3 linked regions of the Homo sapiens genome follow. The protein of the gene in region 3 purifies or fractionates together with the protein of the main gene of each other region. This does not show direct contact. Each region holds a gene or a part of one and is shown on either strand. Other genes may lie near its edges.

Region 1 (7,397 bases), on a different chromosome or scaffold from region 3:
TTGGCCTTTCGAAGTGTTGGGATTACAGGCGTGAGCCACAGCACCTGGCCAAATTCATCTTTTAAAAGTTGCTTAATCCCGGCCAGGTGCAGTGGCTCACTCCTGTAATCCCAGCACTTTGGGAGGCTAAGGTGGGCAGATCATGATGTCAGGAGTTCAAGACCAGCCTGGCCAATATGGTGAAACCCCCATCACTACTAAAACAATGCAAAAATTAGAAGGCCGGGCGTGGTGGCAGGCAGCTGTAATCCCAGCTACTCGGGAGGCGGAGGCAGGAGAATCGCTTGATCCCAAAAGGCAGAGGTTGCAGTGAGCTGAGATTACACCACTGCCCTCCAGCCTGGGTGACAGAGTAAGACTCCATCTCAAAAAAAAAAAAAAAAAAAATTGCTTAATCCCAGGTTTGGGTTTTCTGTCCTTGTGGCTGAAGGGACCCTGAGTGAAGGCTGCAGACTCATCAGGGGCAGATGGAAAAATACCAGGATTGAGCCTCTCAGAAGTGATGCTTGAATCCAGTCTTCAAAGATGAGGACTCCGGCAGGTGACGTGGCAATAGCGTTTTGGAGGGACCAGTCCAGATACACAGGCATGGAGCCATGCATTTGTTCCAGAAAGTGTATTTGGATGGAACCGGAACATGGAACAGGACACACAGCAGGATGCGGAGCAGTGTCAGATGAGGCCAGAAAGGTGGGTGGGACTGGTCTTCAGGGGCTCCAGATGAGGCTGAGGGGCTGGGCCTAGGTCCTGGAGTGGGGTCAGCTCTGGGACCCTTCTGGGGCTGTGTGGGGAAGGGGCTGGGGGCCAAGAGGTCCAGGAGGAGGCTGGCGATGAGATGGCTGGAAGCCAGGGGTTCAGGGAGGCCCAGGCTCCTGGTATCAGGGTTCACCGGCTATACTGAGGATCCCCTGCCCCTGGCACCCAGCTGTGGAGGGGACACTGTCTTTGAGGCATCACTGGTTCCACAAAAGGTAGGGGAAGGTCTTGAGGGACCACCCCATGCCCTCATTAATCAACCAGAAGCTTGGCCCGGAGCAGCAGCGGGGATTCCAGTAGCTGTGGGCATACAGGATGCTAGGGCGGCCACAACCCAGGCAGCTGAGGCCGAGCCACCTAGGAACGCAGGCTCAGAGCAGACCCTCTTGGGACAGACGGAGAAGGGGAGGGGGCGGGCTTCTCTAAGTTAAGCCGATCACTGAGCACCTCACTGGACACGAGAGAAGGCAAGCCCCTCGGAGGACAGAAGGGAAGAGCCACAGACTTGGAGGCTGTGAAAGTGGAGACAGGTGGACCTGGGGTGGCAGCAATGCGTGAAATGCCAGGCCGTGCCCCCGCCCCAGGAGCCCAACATGACACCAGCCCCCAGGGAAGCTGACTGTGCCACTTCATCCAGCGCCCATCAGTCGCCTTGGAGCATCAGGAATCCTGAGGGCTGGGGTCCCGGAGGATCACAGATGCTGGGGCACCTCAACCTCAGGGAGCCGCTCGAGAAGTTTCTTTTCTGAAGTGTCCACCTCCTTCTGGTCACCGGCTGGAGCTGGGACAGGTACATCGTCTGGAAATGGAGGGAGGGAATGGTGGCACAGGACATCCGAACCCCTCCTCCCCCAGGACCCCAGAGGCCCAGCCCCTCCTCCCTCACACCCAGGGGTCCAGCCCCCAGCCCCTCCTCCCTCACACCCAGGGGTCCAGCCCCCAGCCCCTCCTCACTCACACCCAGGGGTCCCAGCCCCTCCTCCCTCACACCCAGGGGTCCCAGCCCCCAGCCCCTCCTCCCTCAGACCCAGGAGTCCGGACCCCCAGTCCCTCTTCCCTCAGATCTGGGAGTCTGGGCCCCCAGTCCCTCTTCCCTCAGATCTGGGAGTCCAGGCCCAGCCCCTCCAACCTCAGACCCAGGGGTCCAGCCCTGCAGCCCCTCCTCCCTGGACTAGGGCCAGCACCTGTGTCTGGGTGGAACTTGAGCTGCCCCTCAGGGTGGGCAGCCGGGGCCTTGTGGCCTTGCTGCTGCTGCTGCTGCTGCTTCCGCTGCTCCATGTGCAGCACAGCCTGTGGGAGGTGGGGGGTCACACAGACAAGAGGGTGTGATGCTGGCATTGCAAGTGCTCAGGCCTCAGTCCCCAAACGGAGACTTCACAGCAGCCTGCTAAGTGGTCACGGCCAACCCCTTCTCCGTGGGCCTCAGTTTCTCTCTTTCATTGACAGTCGGGCTTAATAATAGTCAAGGATCCAGTTCTCCCTCCAGTCACAGCTTGGGTCTTGCTTTGGGACAGGGAAACCCTCACCCATCCCTGGCTGAGTCTGCCTTTCTCCCCCTCCTGGGCCTTTCCCTCCTCACTTACAGCCTTAATGCCCTTATCTCACATGGCAGCCACAGAGCCGTCAGAGACGGGAAAACGTCTGCCCTTACTCAAGATGGCGGTGAATACTTGAGGCTCCCCCAGTGATTAACATGGTGGCCACAGGCCTTCCCAGCTTCTGGACACCCATGGGGACACGGACACGGGCAGCCAGAGATTCAGTGGATGGAAGCAGCTTCCCCCGCTGTCACCTGCTGCAGCTCTCTCTTCTGGGCCTCCAGGCGGCCCTGGGACCGCCCTAGAGCCTCTGTCTCCTGGCTGAGGCGCTGGGCCTTGGCATTCAGCTCTGCCTCCCGGGCAGCCAGCTCCTCTTCAAAGCGCCTCAGCTCTTCCTCGGTGTAGGCAGGGTGCATCTCCACTGTCTGCAGGGCAGGCACAGGGGCCATCAGGGGCACAGGTCCAACCTCGGCCCACCCATGTTGGAGAGGGTTGTGCCAATGGGGGAGGTGTAGAGGAGGCTGGGAGGCCAGGGCCATGTGGGTGGGCAAAGAAGCCCAAGTGGGAGGTGGGAGTGGGATAAAGACCGAGAGACAAGGCCGGGCACCATGGCTCCCACCTGTAATCCCAGGACTTTGGGAGGCGAAAGTGGGAAGGATCACTTGACGCCAGGAGTTCAAGGTCAGCCTGGGCAACGGAGCGAGACCCTGTCTCTACAGAAAATTGGCTGGGCATCTTGAAAAATATATAGAAATAGGCCAGGCACCATGGCTCACACCTGTAATCCCAGCACTTTCGGAGGCCGAGGTGGGTGGCTCACCTGAGGTCAGTAGTTTGAGATGAGCCTGACCAACATGGAGAAACCCCGTCTCTACTAAAAATACAAAATGAGCAGGGCATGGTGGTACATGCATATAATCCCAGCTACTCAGGAGGCTGAGGCAGGAGAATTGCTTGAACCTGGGAGGTGGAGGTTGCAATGAGCTGAGAATGCACCATTGCACTACAGCCTGGGCAACAAGAGCAAAACTCTGTATTGAAAAATAAACAAACAAATAAATAAATAAATAAAACAGAGACCTAGATTAGCTGGGCATGGTGGTATGTGCCTGTAGTCCCAGTTACTCAGGAGGCTAAGGAAGGAGGATCACCTGAGCCCAGGAATTCAAGGCTGCAGTGAACTATGATTACACCACTGCACTCCAGCCTGGGTGACAGGAGACCCTGTCTCAAAAAATATTAATAAATAAATAAAAGAATGAGCTAGATTAGCTAGGCATGCTGGCATGTGCCTGTAGTCCCAGCTAATAGGGAGGCTCAGGCAGGAGGATCACTTGAGGACAGGAGTTTGAGGCTGCAGTGGGCCATGATAACACCCCTGCACTCCAGCCTGGGTAATCCCAGCACTTTGGGAGGCTGAGAAGGGTGGATAGCTTGAGTCCAGGAGTTTCAGAGCAGCCTGGCCAACATGCAAAACCCTGTCTCTACCAAAAAATACAAAAATTAGCTAGGTGTGGTGCGGTGGTGCATGCCTGTAATCCCACCACTTAGGGAGGCCAGGTCAGGTGGATCGCTTGAGTCCAGCAGTTCTAGAGCAGCCTGGCCGATATGGCAAAACCCCATCTCTACAAAAAATACAAAAATTAGCCAGGCATGGTGGCTCACGCCTGTAATCCCAGCTACTCATGAGGCTGAGATGGGAGGATCGCTTGAATCCAAGAGGCGGAGGTTGCAGTGAGCCGAGATCCCACCACTGGGCTCCAGCCTACGCGACAGAGCAAGACCCTGTTTCAGAAAAAAAAAAAAAAAAAAAAAAATCACACCTCTAATCCCAGCACTTTGGGAGGCCAAGGTGGGTGGATAACCTGAGGTCAGGAGTTTGAGACCAGCCTGGCCAACATGGTGAAATCCTGCCTCTACTAAAAATACAAAAATCAGCTGGGTGTGGTGGCACGCACCTATAATCCCAGCTACTCAAGAGGATGAGCCAGGAGAATTGCTTGAACCTGGGAGGTGGAGGCTGCAGTGAGCCGAGATCGTGCCACTGCACTGCAGCCTGGGCGATGGAGTGAGACTCCGTCTCAGAATAAATAAATAAATAAATAAATAAATAAATAAATAAATAAGAGTCCTAGAGACAGGGGAAAACAGAGACCCAGAGATAGAGATGCAGTGACCCAGGAGAATGGACGGGGACCCAGAGAGAAAGAGAAGGGGCCTAAGATTCTGAAAGAAAGGTCATGGCTAGAAGAGAGAGAGGTTCAGGACCCCGAGTATCCCCCATGTTCTCACCTCCCAGCCCTCCCCGGTGTCCCCAAACTCCTTCCTCTGAGTGGATGCGAGGAACTCCTCCAGGGTCACGAGGCGGTCCTGGTTGGTGTCCACCTGGGGAGCCAGATAAGGGTGAGTGACAGAGCTGGGGGCCCGTCCTCTCCCCCGCCTGGCCCCCACCTCACATTCTTCATCACATGCTCCCGCATGCGCAGTCGCTCCTCCTCCATCTCCCGCATGTCGTCCTCCTCATTCTTTGGGTCGTACACTTTCTCCAGCTGCAGGAGCAAGCGAGAGGCAGACAGCATTGAGAGGTCCCCAGCGAGCTCATTCCCGACAACTTCAACTCCCAGCAGTCCTTTGGGCACGCTACCACTCCTGGGAGCCGTTTTTGCCCCAGGGGCTGATGGGAGTTGTAGTTTTCACTGAGCTCCCATCCAGGGGGATTTAAGGGGACTGCAGGAGGAAACAAGTGGCTGATTTGGGCGTCCCTCCAGGTGCCCGAGGCTTCCAAGATGCTCACCTCCTTGGTGAAGAGTGCCTCCAGCTCCTGCTCATCCAGGACACCATCACTGTTGATATCTGAAGGGAAGAGGATAGCAAGGTATCTCAGGGGACCGAGGACGGGATGTGTAAGGTCCCTGGTGAAGAAATTTTGGGCTGATGTGGGGTCTGTTATCAGAGGACAGGTAACTACGGGTCTCCCGCGGTGGAACGGTGGCCCCCAGGCTTTAGTACCCCACTAGACCCGTTGCTAGGGCCACTGCCTAGCGACCAGGGGGTTGAGAATGGAATAGATCAAAGGGAGGGTTCGAGGAAACATGCTTGGGTCACTGTCATGCAGGATTCTCTGGCCCTGGCATTCAGTGCTCTGGACACAGAGTCAGCTCCAGGGTTATCAGGGACCTCTGCCTCCCAGACAACCAGGCCAGTGCCGACTCCAGTTGTGAGGGGAGCCTCTCCTACCAACGTAGACCCCACAGCTGCAGGGCTTCAGGCTCGGTCAGCCACACTTCCTGTCCTCACCACCGGCCCTCCTTCCTCGGCTCCCTCAGACAAGCACAACCTTCCTCCTGAGGAGGAGGCCAGGAACCCTCATCTTGCAAATCCAGTGGTTAATTTCCACCTGCATCTGACTTGACTTTCTGCCCTTGGCTTCCAGAACATGATTCTGTCCTCTCTGGCTGCCCCTCCACCTCCTTTGACGGCTCCATCCTCTTCCTGACCTCCACATGCTAGTGTGGCCCAGGGCTCAGGCCTGGGGGTCTCTTCTCTGCCTAAACTCTGGATCTGCGCTGTCCAGTACAGTAGCCGCTAGCCACATGGGCTGTTTAAATGTAAATTGATTAAGATTAAAGAAAATGTAGGGGCCAAATTTAGGGGCTCATGCCTGTAATCCCAGTACTTTGGAAGGCTAAGGCAAGATCATTTGAGCACATTAAGTTCGAGACCAGCTTAGAAAAGATGGCTAGACCCCGTCTCTACAAAAAAAAAAAAAAAAGTAAAAAATTGGGCCGGGTGCGGTGGCTCACGCCTGTAATCCCAGCACTTTGGGAGGCCGAGGCAGGAGGATCACCTGAAGTCAGGAGTTCAAGACCAGCCTGGCCAGCATAGTAAAACCCCGTCTCTACAAAAATACAAAAATTAGCCAGGCATAATGCCAAGTGCCTGTAACCCCAGCTACTCAGGAGGCTGAGGCAGGAGAATAGCTTGAACCTGGGAGGCGGGGGTTGCAGTGTGCCAAGATCATGCCATTGCACTCCAGCCTGGGCAACAGAGCAAGACTCTGCCTCAAAAAGAAAAAAAAAATTTAAAAATTGGCTGGGCATGGTGGTGTGCACCTATGATCCCAGCTACTCTAAGGGTTGAGGTGGAAGAATCACTTGAGCCCAGGAGGTCTGGGTTGCAGTGAGCCATGATCACGCCACTGCACTCCAGCCTGGGTGACAAAGGGAAGCCCCATCTCTAAAAATAAAAAAAATGAAAAATAAAAAAAGGTATAGGGAGTTGCTCTGAACCTATTCTGGTCTGTAGGGACTGCCTGATTAAAAAGATTAAATAAGGTTTTTATTTTTTTATTTTTTAGAGACAGGGTCTCACTCTGTCACCCAGGCTGGAGTGCAATGGTGTGATCGTAGCTCACTGAAGCCTTGAACTCCTCGGCTCAAGTGATCCTCCCACCTCAGCCTCCCAAGTAGCTGGGACTACAGATGCACGCCACCACACCCAGCTAATTTTTGTATTTGTTTTCATAGAGATGGGGTTTTGCCATGTTGCCCAGGCTGGTCTTGAACTCCTGGTCTCAAGGGATCCAGCCGCCTTGGCTTCGCAAAGTGCTGGGATTATAGGGGTAAGCCACTGCGCCGGGCCTATTTATTTGTTTATTTATTTTTGAGACAGAGTCTCGCTCTGTTGCCAGGCTGGAGTGCAGTGGCATGATCTCAGCTCACTGCAACCTCCACCTCCAGGGTTTAAGTGATTCTCCTGCCTCAGCCTCCTGAGTAGCTGGGACTGCAGGTGCGTGCCACCATGCCCAGATAATTTTTGTATTTTTAGTAGAGACGGGGTTTCACTATGTTGGCCAGGATGGTCTCGATCTCTTGAGCTCCTGATCTGCCTGCCTTGGCCTCCGAAAGTGCTGGGACTACAGGCGTGAGCCACTGAGCCCAGCCTATTTTCTATTTTTTAGAGACAGGGTTTCACTCTGTTGCCCAGGCTGGAGGGCACTGGTATGATCATAGCTCACTGCAGCCTTGAATTCCTGGACTCAAGTGATCCTCCCACCTCTGCCTCCCAAGGAGCTGGGACTACAGATGCACGCCACCACACCCA
Region 2 (8,392 bases), on a different chromosome or scaffold from region 3:
CTGTTGTTTGAAGCCATCCAGTTTCTGGTAATTTGATATAGAAGCCCTAGAAAATCAATACACCCCATAATCCTGTAACTTAAAACTATAGCTCATGGGGTGGCTTCCTGGTTTTGTAAATAAAGTTTTATTGGAACACGGCCACAGATGTTAGCTCTGGATGTGTTCAAAATACAGTAGCAGGATGCAGAAGTTGCATTAGAGACCACATAGTGAAATACTCTCTGACTTTTTAAGAAAAAGTTTGCCAATCTCTGATTTAAAACATATACAGACCGGGCATGGTGGCGTGCACCTGTGATCCCAGCACTTTGGGAGGCCAAAGCGAGAGGATCACTTGAGCCCAGAAATTTGAGACCAGCCTGGGCAACAAAGCCAGACCCTGTCTCTACAAAAAATTTAAAAATTAGCTGGGTGTGGTAATGCATGCATGTAGTCCCACCCACTTCGGAGGCTGAGGAAGGAGGATCACTTGTGCTCAGGAGATCAAGGCAGCAGTAAGGCCTGATCACACCACAGCACTCCAGTCTGGGCAACAGAGCAAGACCTTGTCTCAAAAAAAAAAAAAAAAAAAAAAAAAAGGCCAGACACAGTCACTCATGCCTGTAATCCAAGCACTTTGGGAGGCCAAGGCAGGTGGATCACTTGAGGTCTGGAATTTGAGACCAGCCTGGCCAACACAGTGAAACCCATCTGTAATAAAAATACAAACAATTAGCCAGGCACGGTGGTGTGCACCTATAATCCCAGTTACCGTCTCAAAAAAAAAAAAAGACAAAACCCAAAATAAATACATAAAGATTTACTGGGCTCCCTACAATTTCACCCCTCCAAAGCCATCCTGCAGAAATGCCCACAATTAATATACATGCTTGTTGACTTTACCCTATGGTTAAGTATAAATATATGCAGATGTAGTTTATACATGATTAACATTTTAATGTATTAAAAATAATAGGTAATTTTTTCATAATGAAATATCAAAATTATAAAAGGTTACTCAAGGTAAAGGACATTTCCATCCATCCGTATACTCACTTCCTCGGTCCCCTCCCCAGAAGCAACTGCTGTTACCACTTCCTCATGTATCTTTTGAGATCGCCTTTGCTTACATAAATCATATATAGTGTCCCCTCCAAATTCCTATGTTGGAGTCTTAACTTTTCATACCTCACAAAGTGATGTTATTTGGAAATAGAGTGTTTACAGAGGTAACTATATTAAAATGAGGTCATTAGAATTAGCTTTAATCCAATGTCTTTTAAAATGGGGAAGTTTGAACATGAACTCATGGACACAGGGAGACTGTCATGTGGAGATGAAGGCTGAGATCGGGGTGACATGTCTACAGGCCAAAGAGTGTCAAAGATTGCCAGCACACCACCAGAAGTGAGACAGGGAGGAACAGATTCAACCTCACGGCTCTCAGAAGGAACCGGCGCTGCCAACACCTTCATCTCGAACTTCTAGCCTTCAGAACTGCAAGACAATACATTTGGAAATTTACGACTACCCTGGCCTACAAACATGACAAGTATCTATGTATCCTCACCCATCTCCCTCCTTTTTTTGTGTGTGTGTTTTGTTTTTACCTAAGTGAAAGCATACATAATACATTATTTAGTATATTGCTGGTTTTCACTTAACAATATATTTTGGAGATTGTCCCATGTCCCATGTGCTAGTTCTTCTCTAACAGCCCATCTCCCATTCCCTGAGCCTGCTCCTCCACTTTGCTCTGTGCCCCAGATGCAATCTGTGTGCACTGCAACATCTGTGATCATGCCTCCAGCTTCCCATTGGTTCGGCCAAGGGGAGGCTCCAGTAGGAAACTGCAGTTGGGAAGAGAAAGAGGGGACAGTGTATTTATCCCCGACACACACACACCTGTGGTTCCACAGTGGCTGTATCTCTCTATAGCTCTAGTCCTTAAAGTACGTCCCTCTTCCATGGCTCCTGGCATCACTGAAGCTCAGGAATGACATGTCCTACTCTGCCCTTCAGCCCCAGGGGTGGTGATAGCTCCCCACTGTTGCCAGGCCCTGGGGTTTGGCCATCCTTTGTTGGTTCCCTTAACCCTTCCTGTATTCATTTGCTGCAGGTGCTGTCTCAAATTACCACAAATTAGATGGCATAACAATGCAAAGTTATTCTCTCACATTTCTGGAGGCCAGAATCCCCCAAAGCACCAGCAGGGCCATGCTCCCTCCAAAACCTCCAAGGGAGAACGCTTCCTTGCTTCTTTCAGCTTCTGGTGGCTCCAGGTCTTCGTTGACTTGTGACTGCATCACTCCAGACTCTACCTCCACCTACACATGACGTTCTCTGTGTGTCCTTTAAAAGGACATGTGTCATTGGATTTAGGGTCTACCAGGATAATTCAGGATGATCTCATTTTGAGACCCTTAAGTACATTTGCAAAGACCCTTGATATGGTTTGGCTGTGTCCCCACCAAATCTCATCTTGAATTGTAGCTCCCATAATCCCCACGTGTCCTGGGAGGGACCCAGTGGGAGATAATTGAATTATGGGGGTGGTTTCCCCATACTGTTTTCGTGGTAGTGAATAAGTCTCACGAGATCTGATGGTTTTATAAGGGGAAAGCCTTTCACTTGGTTCTCATTCTCTCTTTGCCTGCCACCAGGTAAGACATCCCTTGCTCTTCCACCATGATTGTGAGGCCTCCCCAGCCATGTGGAACTGTGAGTCCATTAAATCTCTTTCCTTTATAAATTACCCAGTCTCAGGTATGTCTTCATTAGCAGCGTGAGAACAAACTAATACAACACTTTTTTGCAAATAAAGTCACATTTACAGCTTCCAGGGGTCAGGATGCCCCCAGTGTGTGTGGTGGTGAGGGGACAGGGGATCATTCATCCCACTACACTGCCCACCCTTCTGTAAATAGCTTTTTGTCCAGATTTGCTTTTGTTAAATCCTTTTGAGTATACCTCTGTGTCCTGCTGACTGATGCATTTCCTTCAAAAACATTTATAGCTACATACCTACCGTTTTTTAACAACTGCATAGAATTCTGTTGAATGGACAGACCTTAATTTACAATTAGCATTTAATGAACTCCTATTACCTGTCTCCTCCTGGTGCCCAGTGTGATGCTTTGCAAAGATGGATCTAAGGATGCCCCTATGGCAACATAATGTAGAAAGAACAAGTGGCCTCATCTATAACTCTGAACCTACACTGTGCGCTCCTCACCAGCGAGTTCTGTAGGTTTATGCTGTGGCAGATGCATGAGCTCCCTGCATTTGGGGCTCAGTAGGAAAGAGGCATATTCGAGGATGCCATGTTTGAGCTGGTCTTAGAGAGGGGATGGGAATGGGTTCAGAAAGATATTCCAGTGGCCAAAAGCACATGAAAGATGCTGTTTCATTAGTTATCGGGGAAATGCAAATCAAAACATTGAGTCACCACTGTACACCCACTAGAGTGGCTATGATTATAAAGACCCAATAACAAACACTGGAGGAGATGTGGAGATATTTGAACCTTCATATACCGCTGGTAGGAATATAAAATGGGGAAGCCACTTTGGATAACAGGTTAGCAGGTTCTAAAAAGGTTAAGCATAGAGTTACCATATGATCAGGCAATCCTACTCCTAGGAATATATCCAAGAGAAATAAGAACATATGCCCACACAGGAACTTACAGGTAAATGTTCACGGCAAGATTATTCACAGTAGCCACAAAGCGGAAACAACCCAAATGTCCATCATCAACTGATGAATAAATAAAATGTAATACATCCATATATGTAATACTATTCAGCAAAAAAAGTGTGGTGGCTCACGTCTGTAATCCCAGCACTTTGAAAGTTCAAGGCAGGTGGATTGCTTGAGCCCAGGAGTTCAAGACCAGCCTGGGCAACATGTTGAAACCTCGCCTCTACCAAAAAATTACCAAAAAAAAAAAATTAGCCAGGCATGGTGGCATGTGCCTGTAGTCCCAGCTGCTCAGGAGGCTGAGGTGGGAGGATGGCTTGAGCCTGGGAGGCGGAGGTTGCAGTGAGCTGAGATTGTGCCACTGCACTCCAGTCGGGGTGACAGAGCCCGACCCTGTCTCAAATAAATAAACAGATAAATAAAGTGCTGATTCATGCTGCAACATGGAAGAACTTTGAAAACATTATGCTAAGTGAAAGAAGTCAATTACAAAAGACTACATATTGTATTATTCCATTTACATGAAATGTCCATAACAGACAAATCCATAGAGACGGAAAGTAGATTAGTGGTTATCAGAGGGAAGGGAGAGGGAGGAATTGGAAGGTTATAGCTAAAGGGTGTGGTGTTTCTTTGGGGGTAATGAAAATGTCCTAGCATTGATTGTGGTGATGGCTGCACACCTCTGTAAATATAGTCAGCACCATTGAATTGTGCACTTTAAGTGGGTGAATTGCATGGTTTGTGATAAAGCTGTTAACAATAAGAAGGGGGGACGGAATGTCTTTTAGGTGAAGGAAATTGCAGAAGCTTGGCAGCAACGTCCAGTGCAGCTGAGGCACTGTGGGGAAACAGAAAGGAAATACCGTCATTTAAGAGTGAAAATAGGGGTTTTCATAGGATGTCTCCATCCAAGAGTAGGTACCGAGAATGCTCAGAGAAGCAATAGGAAAATAACATCCCTTTCACGTTCTCACCTCCTTAACCCCTAGCATAATAAAGAATTATTCCCATTTTATAGAAGTAGACACAAAGGCTCAGAGGCCATTTTGGCCAAGATCTCTCAGCTAGAAGATTGGCCAGCTGAGAGTTCCAAACATTAGGAAGGGAGGCAAAATGCTTGTGGGGCTGGGGTTGAAGGCGTAGAGACTCATTGTAGGGCCCTAGGCAGTCCCTAGCTCGAATCTGACTTTCCAATTCATAGTTATAAGACTTTGAGCAAGCTGCTTTACACGCACGATTCCCAGTTTATCTGCCTGCAAAATGAGAGCGTTTATTTCCAACATGTTCATTCCAAGTATTTACACAAAAGGCTCAATACTTGATTTGTGTTGGCTGGCAATCTCTCTAAACTTCACTTTCCCCATTTCTACGAGGAAGGCAAGGGTCCCTAATCTTGCCCCCGTTCTCAGGGGAGTCCTAAGGCTCAATAATAAAAATAAAATAAGAAAAAGGAGAGAACGCGATTGCCCGGTTGGCGCGACCCTTAACACCGAGCTAAACCGGCGCATGTTAGGGACCGGCGCCCCCTGCCGCCTTCTCCGCTGCATTGGCGTCTCACAGAATCCGCCCAAGGCCCTGCGCCTGCGCAAAATGCAAGCGCCCAGGCCCACCCCTTGTGGGGTGTGACCTCCCTGAGTAGTTTTGGATTAGCCACGCCTACTTCCGGACAGGTCAGGCCAAGGTCTCAGCCACGTGACTGTGTTCCGGCTCGGTAAAGATGGCGGCGCCCAGGGCGGTAGCGTGAAACTTGGTGGAAGACGCTGACCAGTCGTGTTGGAATCAAAACAGCGGGGACCCTGCGCCATGTCGCGACTGATCGTGAAGAATCTCCCGAATGGGGTGAGTGCAGAGGCAGGACTTGGGAATCTGAAATGAGACCAGCCGGGAGCTGTGAGGTAGGGAAGAGATGCCTGGAGGTGATCGAAGAATTTTTGCTCTGGGGCAGGACTCCGGGCCAATTCTGAACTCAAAGGGGGCGGGATCCTGGGCTTATCCCCATTTGATCCCGAGGAAAGAGGAATAGTGACTGCTTACGGTTTCACGGCCGGTTGTTTGGTACCTGACTCCTAACACACCTCTTCTCGGGGAGATGACAACTCCCACCTTGTGGCGAATACCCTGCTCCCACAACCTCTTTCATTCGATCACTGTTTTTTAGTTGTTGACCCGGGACATGGTCCGACACTGTATTTATATTCCTCTCCCAGTCTGGAAACTGTTGGGGAAGACATGGGGAATATTAATCTGCGGACCTGCGTTCCAATTCCCACTCCCATCCTTAGGGCAAGTAGGAATACGGAGTGGGTAAAGGGCTTTACAGCATTTATCCAGTAAGTGGGGAGTGGTGACCCAGCCATACTTTTTTGTTTCCCTGGAGCCCAGCGCAGAACCCGACACGTGGTAGGCAAAATAGGTGAATGTACGTAATATTAGATGATTAGATGCGGTGGGCTCGAATGGATCATCCTTTTTTCTCTCTCTCGCTGTTTTTTGTTCTGTTTTGTTTTTTTGTTTTTAAATGGATTACTGCTCCTTCCATCAGGTTAGACAGTGTCTCTTGATGCCTCGCTTTGTGGGATGAGGATTTTTAGCGTAGCTGCACTTCCTTTCCCTCCCAAATTCAGCTTTGTTGTGTTTCAAGTGTAGTTGATTCTCTTATCATTGTTTGTCTTATCTCTTTTTTTTCTCTCTCTTTCATGGCTTTTTTTGGTTTTGTTTTTTGTTTTTTTCTTTTTTTGTTTTTTTTTTTTAAACGGAGTCTGGCTCTGTCTCCCAGGCTGGACTGCGGTGGAGCAATCTCGGCAGTCTCGGCTCACTGCAACTTTTGCCTCCCGGGTTCTAGCGATGCTCCTGCCTCAGCCTCCCAAGTAGCTGGGACTACAGACACGCGCCACCAAGCCCGACTAATTTTTTTATTTTTAGTAGAGACATGGGGTTTCGCCATGTTGGACAAGTTGGTCTCGAACTCCTGACCTCAGGTGATCCACCGCCTCGGCCTCCCAAAGTGCTGGGATTACAGGCGTGAGCCACTGCACCTGGCCCCCATTTCTGTTCTAATGTTGTGAGTTTTTTCCTTTCCTTTTTTTTTTTTCATTTGTCAGGTGGGACAAAGGAACTTTGTAACACACAGTTTTCAAAATTCAAACAGTATAGTAGTGTATAACATGAGTAGCAAAGTCTTTGCTCTGTCCTACCTTCCCTCTCTGTCCAGGAGTAACCATCTTCATTGATTTGTTTTTGGGACTCCTCACATGTATCTCTGTATATTTGAGGAGTGTACTTTCCTCCTTTTGACCTGCCTGCCCCAGTGACTATCTGCTAGGCCTCAACTGTGAAAAATAAGGAATTTAGATCATCTGTTCCTCCTCTCCAGTGTCTGTAATATTCTTGTTTTTAATTATCCTGTTATAATCTCTGAGTAGTATACTTAAAAATATCTATTACTCATCCATCCATCAGGTTAGACATGTCTCTTGATGCCTTGCTTTGTGCGATGAGGATTTTTAGCGTGGCTGCACTTCCTTTTCTTCCCAAATTCAGCTTTGTTGCACTTCACAGTGTAGTTGACTCTCTTATCATTGTTTGTCTTATCTCATGAATGAAAGAATAATAAAAACAAGGGCAGTTGCAGCTGACACTTGGAGAGTTTACTGTGTGCCAGGCACTGTTCCAGGTGCTTTAGGTAAAGTAACATTTAATCCTCACCATATCCCTGTGAGGTAAGTTTTATTTTTACGCCCATTTTAAAGGTAAAGAAACCAAGATACAGCGAGGTACAGGGATTTGCCTGAGGTCACACACTGGTGTAATTTATAGAGCAGGGATTGAATTGAGCAATCTTTAGTTTAGGGATTGAATTGAGGAAATAATTAGTAGTGAGTACTTGTGATATTGCTGACACTGTAGATAGAGGTGGATAAGCCTGTGTCCTTATTTTTAATGGGACTTGCAGGCTAGCAGAAAAGAGAGGCACCAGATCATTACGATGCAAGGTGCATCACTGACATGTGAACCGAGTGCTGTGGGAGCACAGTGAGGGTTGGTTATCTCGTCCATCTAAGGCATCTAAGAAAGGCCTCCTGGAATAGGAGATGATTGAACTGAGAATGAGGAGTTAGCCAGGGCCTGTCTTGGGAAATATCACCCAGAGGGGACAACCAAAGTAAAACCTCGGAAGTGAGAAGGCTGTGAGAAATTTGTCAAAGCGTGGTGCTGAAGAGGTTGGTCAGGGCAGATCTTGAAGAATTGCATGTTTTCCTTTAGGTGCTCGTCCTTGAGACTTTGGTGCCAGAAAGTCACCGAAAGGTTTTTGGCAAAGGAATGATGGATTCAGACTTGAGCCAGGTCTCTCCCAGGCACTGAGGAATTGAATTCACTGTCTTATATTTCTGAATTGAGTCACAAACCTTGATTCTGTAGGCCTTGGGCAGATCATTTATCCCTTATGAGTTTCATTTTCTCTATAAAATGTGGACAAAAATTCCTAACTCACAGTGTGATTGAGATTTTGATTAGATCAGTTAGTAAGAAGCTACCTCAGAAAATGTCATCTTCTGGCTGGACTGCCAAGGCCTCTAGCTTCTTGCATTTTCAAACTTATTTTGGCTGTTCGTGGGGCCCTGAATGTCCCCTCAACTCCACTACCACACACACAAATATCCCAGTATCTGCTTAGAAAACTGAGTTGTGAGGGTAGCCTGGCTGC
Region 3 (8,620 bases):
ACCTGCCCCCAGCCCCTCCTGTGTGTAAGGAAGCAGGAGTTCCCACCGTGGCACCGGAAGCAGCGGGCACCCTCTGACCCCTCCCAGGGAGCCCACGCTCTCAGCCTGGGGCCCGCCTTCTCTCCCCTTCCCCTCATCCAGCAGAAGCGGGGTCGCTCTCCTTTTGGAGGCCAGCAGGCCCCTTGCCCTCTGTGCCTGATGCTCAAGCTGTGGTAACACAGCCCCACACAGGGTAGGTGGCTCAAACAGACATTTATCATCTGCAGGACTCTGGGCTGGATGTCCAAGACTGGGGTGTCGGCAGAGTTGGCTCCTTCTCAGGGCTATAGGGCAGAGTCTGTTCCTTTCTTGTCCTTTAGCTGCTGGTGTTTGCTGGCAAACTTTGGCACTCCTTGGCTTGTAGCAGCATCACCCTTGTCCCCACCTTTACGCTCTCATGGCGTCCTCCTGTGTGCACGGCTGTGCCCATGTGTCTCTTAAGGAGGATCCTGGTCACAATGGATTCAGGGGTCATTCTACTCCTATGTTACCTCATCTTCACCAGTTGCATCTGTAATGACCCTATTCCAAATAAGGTCACATGCTGAGTTACTAGGGGTTAGGACTTCAACAGATGAACTCTGGGGAGGAGACATAATTCAGCCCATGACCCCCCAAACACACACACAAAATGAAGTCCCTTGGACTCTGGTGTGGGGAAGAAGGTGACCATGGCACAGCCATCAGCTGCGAAAAATCCACATTCTCTTGTCAAAGCTGTTTTACATGTTAAACAAGAGCCCCCAGTGTCTCCTACGCCTTCATCAGGGACCATCTGTTGATCCTGCAGCACTGAGTACTGCTGCTTCCCCTGTGTTGACACAGCCCCGGGCAAGTTCCCCTTGCCAGGACTCAGGGTCATCATCTGCAAGGAGGGAGTGATGGCAGCCCCTGCCCCATCTCACTCTAGAGAAACAACAAAACCCACAGCAGAGCTCAGCTGCGTGCTGCTCCTGTTGACTGCCAGGAATGTTCGCAGCTGCAGGGGAGCCATTCCGGGAAATCTGACATGCGCTGGGGGCTGAAGGAGGCACCGAGATTTTCACTTGTGTTGCACACGTGCCAGGGAGGAGCCCAGCCTCCCTGTGGGTTTGGCGAGTCTGCACTAACCAATCAGGTGGCTCTGAGTCTGGGCTCTCTGAGTCTGGGCTCTGTGACCACAAGCTCTCTGGCCCTGGACACTCTGACCCTGGGCTCTCTGAGTCTCAGCTCTCTGACTCTGGCCTCTCTGACCCTAAGTTCTCTGACCCTGGGCTCTCTGAGTCTGGGCTCTCTGACCCCTGGGAGGGCATGGGAACAGAGAGCGATGGTCCTCACAGTCCCAGGCTCAGGAGAGCCTCCTCACCTGGACCCTGCCCATCCTGCCAAGTGCCAGGAGAGGTTAGTACACTGCCCATGCTGGCTCTCACCTGGGCCGGCCCAGGTGATTCCACCCATGCCATTGTTGGGGAACAGGTGTGAGGAGGCACCTAGTCCAAGGCAGGGCCCGGCCACTGAGTAATTGCTTCTCTGAGCCTCACCTTCTTAGGTAAAGACAGGGTGCACGGGCCCCAAGAGCAGGTTGTAAGGATAAAGGAAGTTTCTGTGCTGCCTGACCTGACACAGTTGCTCTAAAGGGTCCCTGGAGAAGCACACAGCTTCCAGAGGGAGAGGCTTTTTAGAGTTTTCAAAGAAAGTAAACTCTCTCTCTCTCTCTCCACACACACACACACACACACACACACACACACACACACAGACACACACACATCACACATTCAGACACACCCAGAAACACACACACACATACATGTCCTCACACAGGTACCACTAACACAAGATCACACATACCCACATGCACACTCACGCTTTCAGAAATACACGATCCTTCTCTCCACGCACACACACACGATGCACACACATGCACAAACATGCCTTTGCTTGTTTCCAACCATCCAAAAAAACGTAACTTTCTAAAACCAGGGAACTGAAATGCACCTTTAGCCCGATTTCTGGGAATGCCGTCTTCCTCTTAAAGCAGCAGCTGACGCAGGCTGATGCCAGCGCGGATTCTGCTGTGCTGGAAGCAAGCACGTTCCAGTAAAGGCGGCAAGCGCTCCTCAGCCTGCATCACGGTCTACCAAACGACAGAGTAGAATAAAATACTTTAATGTTGTGATGACACAAAGCCCCACACTGCCCCGCTGCTCCTGGGAGGCTCCTCAGTCTGCCAGGGCTGGCACTCAGGCCCTTCCCTGCCGGCTTCCTGCCACACAGACCCACAAATGCCCTGCATTGCAGGCAGCCCCCTCCGAGCTCCGACTTGGGCCCTCTTCAGTTCCCACTGGACCCTGATTTGAGCTGGCTCTGGAAATAGCTGAGAACCCAGACGCGGGACGCAGGGGCAAGGGCTCAAGGAGGAGAGTCAGAGTCAAGAGGCTGCCACGCCAAGATGTCGCCAGGAGCTCTGGCGGTGGCCACCAGGCCCAGCTAGTGCGCACTGGCCTCCAGCTGGGAGCCCAGTCTCGAAGCCTGAACGTGAGAGGGCTCCAGGTTATCCGGGCTCTGCTTCTGCCGCCGCCGTCGGGGCTGGACCCCCTTACCAGGGGGTCTGGGCAGCCCACTCTGTAGCTGCCGCACCATCTCGTGGTCCCTGTGGTCCAGCACGCGGGGCAGGAACAGGGAGGACTTCTGTGTGCGGCGGGTCTTGAAGCCCCTGCGGGGCCGGCCCTTGCCGTTCACAGACACGTACCACAGTCTCTCGGCGCTGGGCTGCCGGCGGGCCCCAGGCGTACTAGACACCGTCCGGTACAGCCGGGAGGCATACGTATTATAGCCCAGCTCGTGGATCCGCTCCACAAACTCGCACTCGGCGCTGTAGTGCTCCTGCGGGGATGAGATATCATGGTCAGTGCCCCGGGGAGACTGTGGCAGCGTCAGGGCCCAGGGTTGCCTGATGCCTCCCTCCCCTCCTGTGAGGCTGTTCGGTCCAGTGCCAAACCCCAGCGCACTCTCAGCCAGTCACACCTTTGCCTAGGCCCTGCCCTCTGCCCAGCATGTCCTTCCTCCCCTGTGTGCCTGGTGAACTTGGCCTTCTGCCTAAAGGTCACCTTCACTCAAAGCTGTGCCAGACAACTCCCAGCTCCTGCTCTCTGGGTTCCACCAGCCTCTGTCCCCCATCTGAGGGCGCTGACACAGCAAAGGGATGTGTAGGGTTGTCTGTGGAGCAGAGACCAGGCCGGCCAACCCAGGTGCCCTGGCAGTCTGCTGGCAGTGTGGAGGTCAGCAAGGACTGGGCATTTGGACAAAGGAAGATGACAACACCCAGATCTCTTTTAAAGAAATTGCAGAGGCTGGGCACGGTGGCTCATGCCTGTAATCCCAGCAGTTTGGGAGGCCGAGGCAGGTGAATCACCTGAGGTCAGGAGTTCGAGACCAGCCTGGGCAACATGGCAAAACCCCGTCTCTACTAAAAATACAAAAAAATTAGCCGGGTGTGGTGGCGTGCGCCCACAATCCCAGCTACTTGGGAGGCTTAGGCAGGAGAATCACTTGAACCCGGGAGGCAGAGGTTGCAGTGAGCAGAGATTGTGCCACTGCACTCCAGTCTGGGCGACAAGAGCAAAACTCTGACTCAAAAAAAAAAAAAAAAAGAAAAGAAAAAAAAAGAAATTGCAGAAAAGAAAAAAGAAGAAAGAACACAAAAAGCAGGAAGGGAAGGGGACACAGCCAGGTTTGATGAGCCCAGACTCTCCATTAAACGCTGCGCTCAGGGGCCCCAGCTGGGGTCATTGACCCCTGAGCAACACTCTCTTAAGCTGGAGGATCTCGCCTTGCAGGTTGAAGAGGTTACAACACAGAGCAGGGGCTGGGGCCTGGCATGAGGCACATGATCAATCAGTGCCACAGATACTGCTGTTCTTAGGATGAGAGCAGAAGCTGGGGTGTCCCACCACAAGCAGGACAGAGAGGACACCTCTTTGTCATCAGAGATTAATGGGACCCTTGTCAGGCCCAGGGTGCAGTGGGGGAAGGGCAGAAGGGACCCTGCCCTCTCAAAGGCACAGTGAAGCTCTGAACTGAAGGAGCTTACACCAACATCCCCAAGACTTGGCCGTGGGAGTTTCCCTCAAGGGCTGCCTCATGGGGTCTTCTTAGTCTGTGGCGTAGGGAAGAGGTGGGTATGCCTTATGCAGACCCACTAGGCTTCAGTCCCAGCTACAGGCAAGTGGTAATGCCTAGGGCCACCTCCCTCAGGGGATGACTGACAGGAGCTGCTCCCTCCAAACCAGAAAGGGTGGTGGGAGGTGGAAGCAGCAGGTGCAAGGCAGACAGCAGGATCTCTCTTTCCTCCTGGGGACTGGCCGCAGGGAGGAGTCGGAGGCCCTCATGGTCTGTCCCCATCTGGGGTGTGGTGTCCCGTGGCAGAGAGAGAGAGTGGAAATGGCCTCCAGAGGCTCCCAGACTGGACCGAGCAGCATCTGACCTCGCAGGACCTCAGGGAACAAGATGCTTCAAGCACCCCATCCTGTTTTTCAGCGACATGAAAGCCCAGAGCAGGGAAGGGTGGAAGGCTTGACCTGGTGGTAGGGGCTGCCTCTCCCCATAACCCCAAGCCCCCCTGCTCTCCAGCCCTCTTGGAGGCCCAGTGCCCCCTGGGCCACAGTCTGGATGTTACTATCCAAGACCGGTCTCCATGTTTATAGATGGGGAAACTGAGGCCCAGGGGTGGTGCCAGGCCCTACATTACAGGGGATAGAACAGTGTCTGATCTGTGCCTGACCCCCACATAGCCTGGGGCTCAGCGACTATCTGGGAATGAGCGGGTGGGCTCAGGGCCGACTTCCCCACCCCACACACTGGGTACACCATGTTAGTGTCTGGCTCCCATGGCAGACTGTGAGAAGCTCAGGGCAGGACCCAAGCTTCTCCCAGGTCCCTCGATCCTGCAGCAGGTGAGTCCTCTCAGGGCCAGAGAGGCCAGGAAATAGGCTTTCTCTTTGGGGGGCCACTTGAGGGGTGGGTCACTGAAGGACAGGTGCCTGTGAGCCTCAGGTGGCAGGGGGCTCAGGCTCTCCCAAGGTGGGAGATTGGGGGCAGTGTAGATCAATTGCTGACACGTGGTAGGGCACCTGGGGTGGCCAAGATGACCAGGGCAGAAGGTGTTGGCTCAGGGGCCAGGGCCATAGACTCCAGAGCTACTGCAGTTGGGACTCGCTGTGACAACACTTTCCAATGTGTGTCCTGACACTGCCGCCCCACCAGACCTGGTTCCACAGGCCCCTCCCCCAGGGCCGCTTCCACCCCATGAAGGGTGGGGAGGAAGCCGACTCCGAAGCTGCTTTGTTGAGGAGGTGACTTCTAAAGGGAGCTGTAAGGGCGGGGCGGGCACTTTCTCATGGGCATTTTCTGGAGGAGGGCGTTCCAGGCAGTGAAGGTGTGGCCTGAGCAGTACAGATGGCTTGGAGAGTTGAGGGGGCTTCCGGAAGCCGGAGGAGGCTCAACCTCTGGATGACAGCCCCCCTGGGAGCAGATGGCACCTGGGCTGCTGCTCTGTGGGTGGAGCTAAGGTGCCTGGGGGATGCCTGCGCATCATGGGAGTCCTCAGAAGCCATGAACTGGGCTGATTTGCTTTTTTAGGAAGCCCCTTTAACATGCACTAGCAGAGTGCAACACATGGTAAGTGCCCAGGACACTGACTGGTGAACGAAGGACTGAATGTCAGATGGGTGGGTGGATGGATGGATGGATGGGTGGATGGATGGATGGATAGATGGGTGGGTGGATGGATGGATGGATGGGTGGATGGATGGATGGATGGATGGGTGGATGGGTGGATGGATGGATGGGTGGATGGCTGGATGGATGGATGGGTGGATGGATGGATAGGTGGATGGATGGATAGGTGGATGGATGGATGGGTGGATGGCTGGATGGATGGATGGGTGGATGGGTGGATGGATGGATGGATGGATGGATGGATGGATGGATGGGTGGATGGGTGGATGGGTGGATGGGTGGATGGCTGGTTGGATGGATGGGTGGATGGATGGATAGGTGGATGGATGGATGGGTGGATGGCTGGATGGATGGGTGGATTGCTGGATGGATTGGTGGATGGGTTGATGGGTGGATGGGTGGATGGGTGGATGGGTGAAAGGATGGAAGGAAGGAGGGAGCATGGACGGATGGACATGTGAATGGGCAGATGGACAGATGAACGGTTGGAAGGATGGATGGAAAGAAGGATGAGAGAAAGGAAAGAAGGAAGGAAGGAGAGGTGTATGGACAGATGGGTGAAGAGAATAAAGGAAGGGGAAAGAAGGAAGGAAGATGGATGGATGGCTTGACAAACAGATGGACTGGAGGTAGGAGAGGCTGGAGCAGTGATCCAGGTGGGAAGTGATGAGCCTGCCTTTTAAGGCGTGCTCTCAGGGATGAGGCAGAGGGAGGTGAGGTGTGTGGGCTGAAGAGATGCAGGGGCGTGGTCTGAGGACTAGGGATGGACTGAATAGCAGGAGGGGTCTACCATGACTCCCAGCCCACTCTGGGTGAGAGTGAGTGGCTGGTGGGGCGATGATTAAGATGGGGAGTCGGGGAGCTGCTGAGTTCGGTTCGAGTGTCTGAGTCAGCAGGATGTTGGGGGAGGGTGGTCTATACCTCAGAAGGGAGGTCAGGGCCAGACCAGGAGTGTCAGGGTGCAGTGCTCACTGGCCCACAGTGAGATGAGCTGGCCTGAGGGCAAGCATGCTGCCGGCAAAGTCCAGGGAGCCCCGTGGTGGGACAGCACTCCTAGGCAAGCTGGCCGCACGCAGGACTGTGGTATCAGGTGGCAGGTGGCAGGTGACGGAGTTGGCATCCAGGCTACTATGCCTCCCAGGTTGTCTGCAGGGCAATGGGAACTTCTCCACTGGGCACTCTGGAAAGTTCCACACCCTCCAGCCAGACTGCTTGGCTAAGCATCCCTGGTGGGGCTAGGAGCCTCTGTCCACCCTTCTCAAAGCCAGGCTGTGAGTTCTCAGGCACGGAAGCCCCAGGTGGGCTCTGAACCACTGGGACCCCCTCATGTCATGCTTTATTCTGTCTCTCCAAATCCTGGCTCCCCTATGGCAGAAGCTGGCACCATGAGGGCCCCTGCTCCCAGACACAGCTTCCAGGACACTGACTGATGAATGGACTGAATGTCAGATGGATAGGTGTATGGATGGATGGGTGAGTGGGTGGGTGGATGGATGGGTGAGTGGGTGGGTGGATAGGTGGATGGGTGAGTGGATGAGTGGATGGGTGGATAGGTGGATGGATGGATGGATGGATGGATGGATAGGTGGATGGGTGGATGGGTGGATGGGTAAATGGGTGGATGGGTGGATGGGTGGATGGATGGATGGATAGGTGGATGGTGGATGGGTAAATGGAAGGATGGGTGGATGGGTGGATGGATGGATGGATAGGTGGATGGATGGATGGGTGGATGGGTGGATGAGTGGATGGATGGATGGGTGGATGGGTGGATGAGTGGATGGGTGAATGGGTGGATGGGTGGATGGGTGAGTGGATGGGAGGAAGGAGGGAGTAGCCTCTGGACCAGAGAAAATGAAGGGGCGCATCCCGGCTTTCTGGACCTTCCTTTAGCAAAACGGCTAAAAATCTGTGATGAAATCATCAGCTTCTGCGAGAGGGAGCTGCGGGATGTGTCCTCTGTGAGCAGGACTGAGCAGAGAGCTCACTGCAGGGAGATTGTCCTTGGGCCGCGTCAGCCAGGCTACTCATGGATGGAAAACCTCTCATTGCCCAAGGAAGTATCAGCCAAATTGCATGTAATGACTAGTTGGAGGTAGCAAATTTCCCTGTGACATGTATTTTACTCTGTGTATTCCCCACCCCTACCCCTTATGAAGAGGGGCGCTGCCATACCCACAGAGTAAGGAGACCCTTTTTGGTTACACGGAGGCCCAGGCAGTAGATAGACTGGGTCCCAAGCCAGGGCTCCAAGGCTCCTGTGTGCCCGGGACATGGGCGCCATCCCCCTTCCCCTCCTAGGCTTCAGCTCTCGCCTTTCCACCCTTGGAGAGAGCCGGTGGAGCTGGGCCAGCGTCCTCCTCTCCATGCTCCCAGGAGAGCTCTGGCTGCCCCAAGGAACACTCCCAGGTTGTCTTGGGTCCATTTATTTTGGTGGAAATTTGGAGAACAATCACTTCCCTGCTCTCAGCTACTCTCAAGGGAGGGTGGTAGTGATGACAAGGATGGGGGAAACCTTTGCTAACCTGGCATTCTCCAGATCCCAGGTCCCCCAGGGCCAGGCTCCAGGTCACTCGCGGAGCAGCCTCTAACAGACACAGCCAAAGATCACTGGGCGTGGAGCCCTGGGCCAGGGTCTGGTCCTAGCTTGGGTCCCGTGTACCCTTGGCAAAGCATTCTACTGCCCACATCCCCCGTCCCCTGGCTTGATGTGCAGGCCAGACCGCTACTCCGTCAGCGCCCACCCACGTGACAGCCTGGACTCACCGAAGCATAGAGTCGTCCCCTCTTGTTCATGGCCAGGTACCGCCCGGAGAAGAGACCCCTGATGGCCACAATGCCCACCTCCACTGCCGTTATCTCC

What was found. The genes of interacting proteins can lie anywhere in the genome.
Region 1: the proteins of FGF3 (region 3) and NUCB1 purify together in Homo sapiens (affinity purification with mass spectrometry; 2 studies listed by BioGRID and IntAct, with this or other methods). This does not show direct contact.
Region 2: the proteins of FGF3 (region 3) and RBM19 purify together in Homo sapiens (affinity purification with mass spectrometry; 2 studies listed by BioGRID and IntAct, with this or other methods). This does not show direct contact.

Annotation. Positions count from the first base shown.
Region 1 is NC_000019.10:48,916,476-48,923,872, reverse strand, and holds the end of NUCB1 (nucleobindin-1 precursor), read right to left. Parts: intron 5,170-7,397; exon of another isoform or gene 5,148-5,169; coding exon 5,089-5,147; exon of another isoform or gene 4,982-5,088; intron 4,844-4,981; coding exon 4,751-4,843; intron 4,680-4,750; coding exon 4,587-4,679; intron 2,720-4,586; coding exon 2,549-2,719; intron 2,047-2,548; coding exon 1,941-2,046; intron 1,556-1,940; coding exon 1,449-1,555; 3' UTR 501-1,448; downstream 1-500. UniProt on the Homo sapiens protein: Major calcium-binding protein of the Golgi which may have a role in calcium homeostasis. Acts as a non-receptor guanine nucleotide exchange factor which binds to and activates alpha subunits of guanine nucleotide-binding proteins (G proteins).
Region 2 is NC_000012.12:113,963,326-113,971,717, reverse strand, and holds the start of RBM19 (probable RNA-binding protein 19), read left to right. Parts: upstream 1-5,392; 5' UTR 5,393-5,490; coding exon 5,491-5,526; intron 5,527-8,392. UniProt on the Homo sapiens protein: Plays a role in embryo pre-implantation development.
Region 3 is NC_000011.10:69,807,797-69,816,416, forward strand, and holds the end of FGF3 (fibroblast growth factor 3 precursor), read right to left. Parts: coding exon 8,524-8,620; intron 2,905-8,523; coding exon 2,509-2,904; 3' UTR 2,172-2,508; downstream 1-2,171. UniProt on the Homo sapiens protein: Plays an important role in the regulation of embryonic development, cell proliferation, and cell differentiation. Required for normal ear development.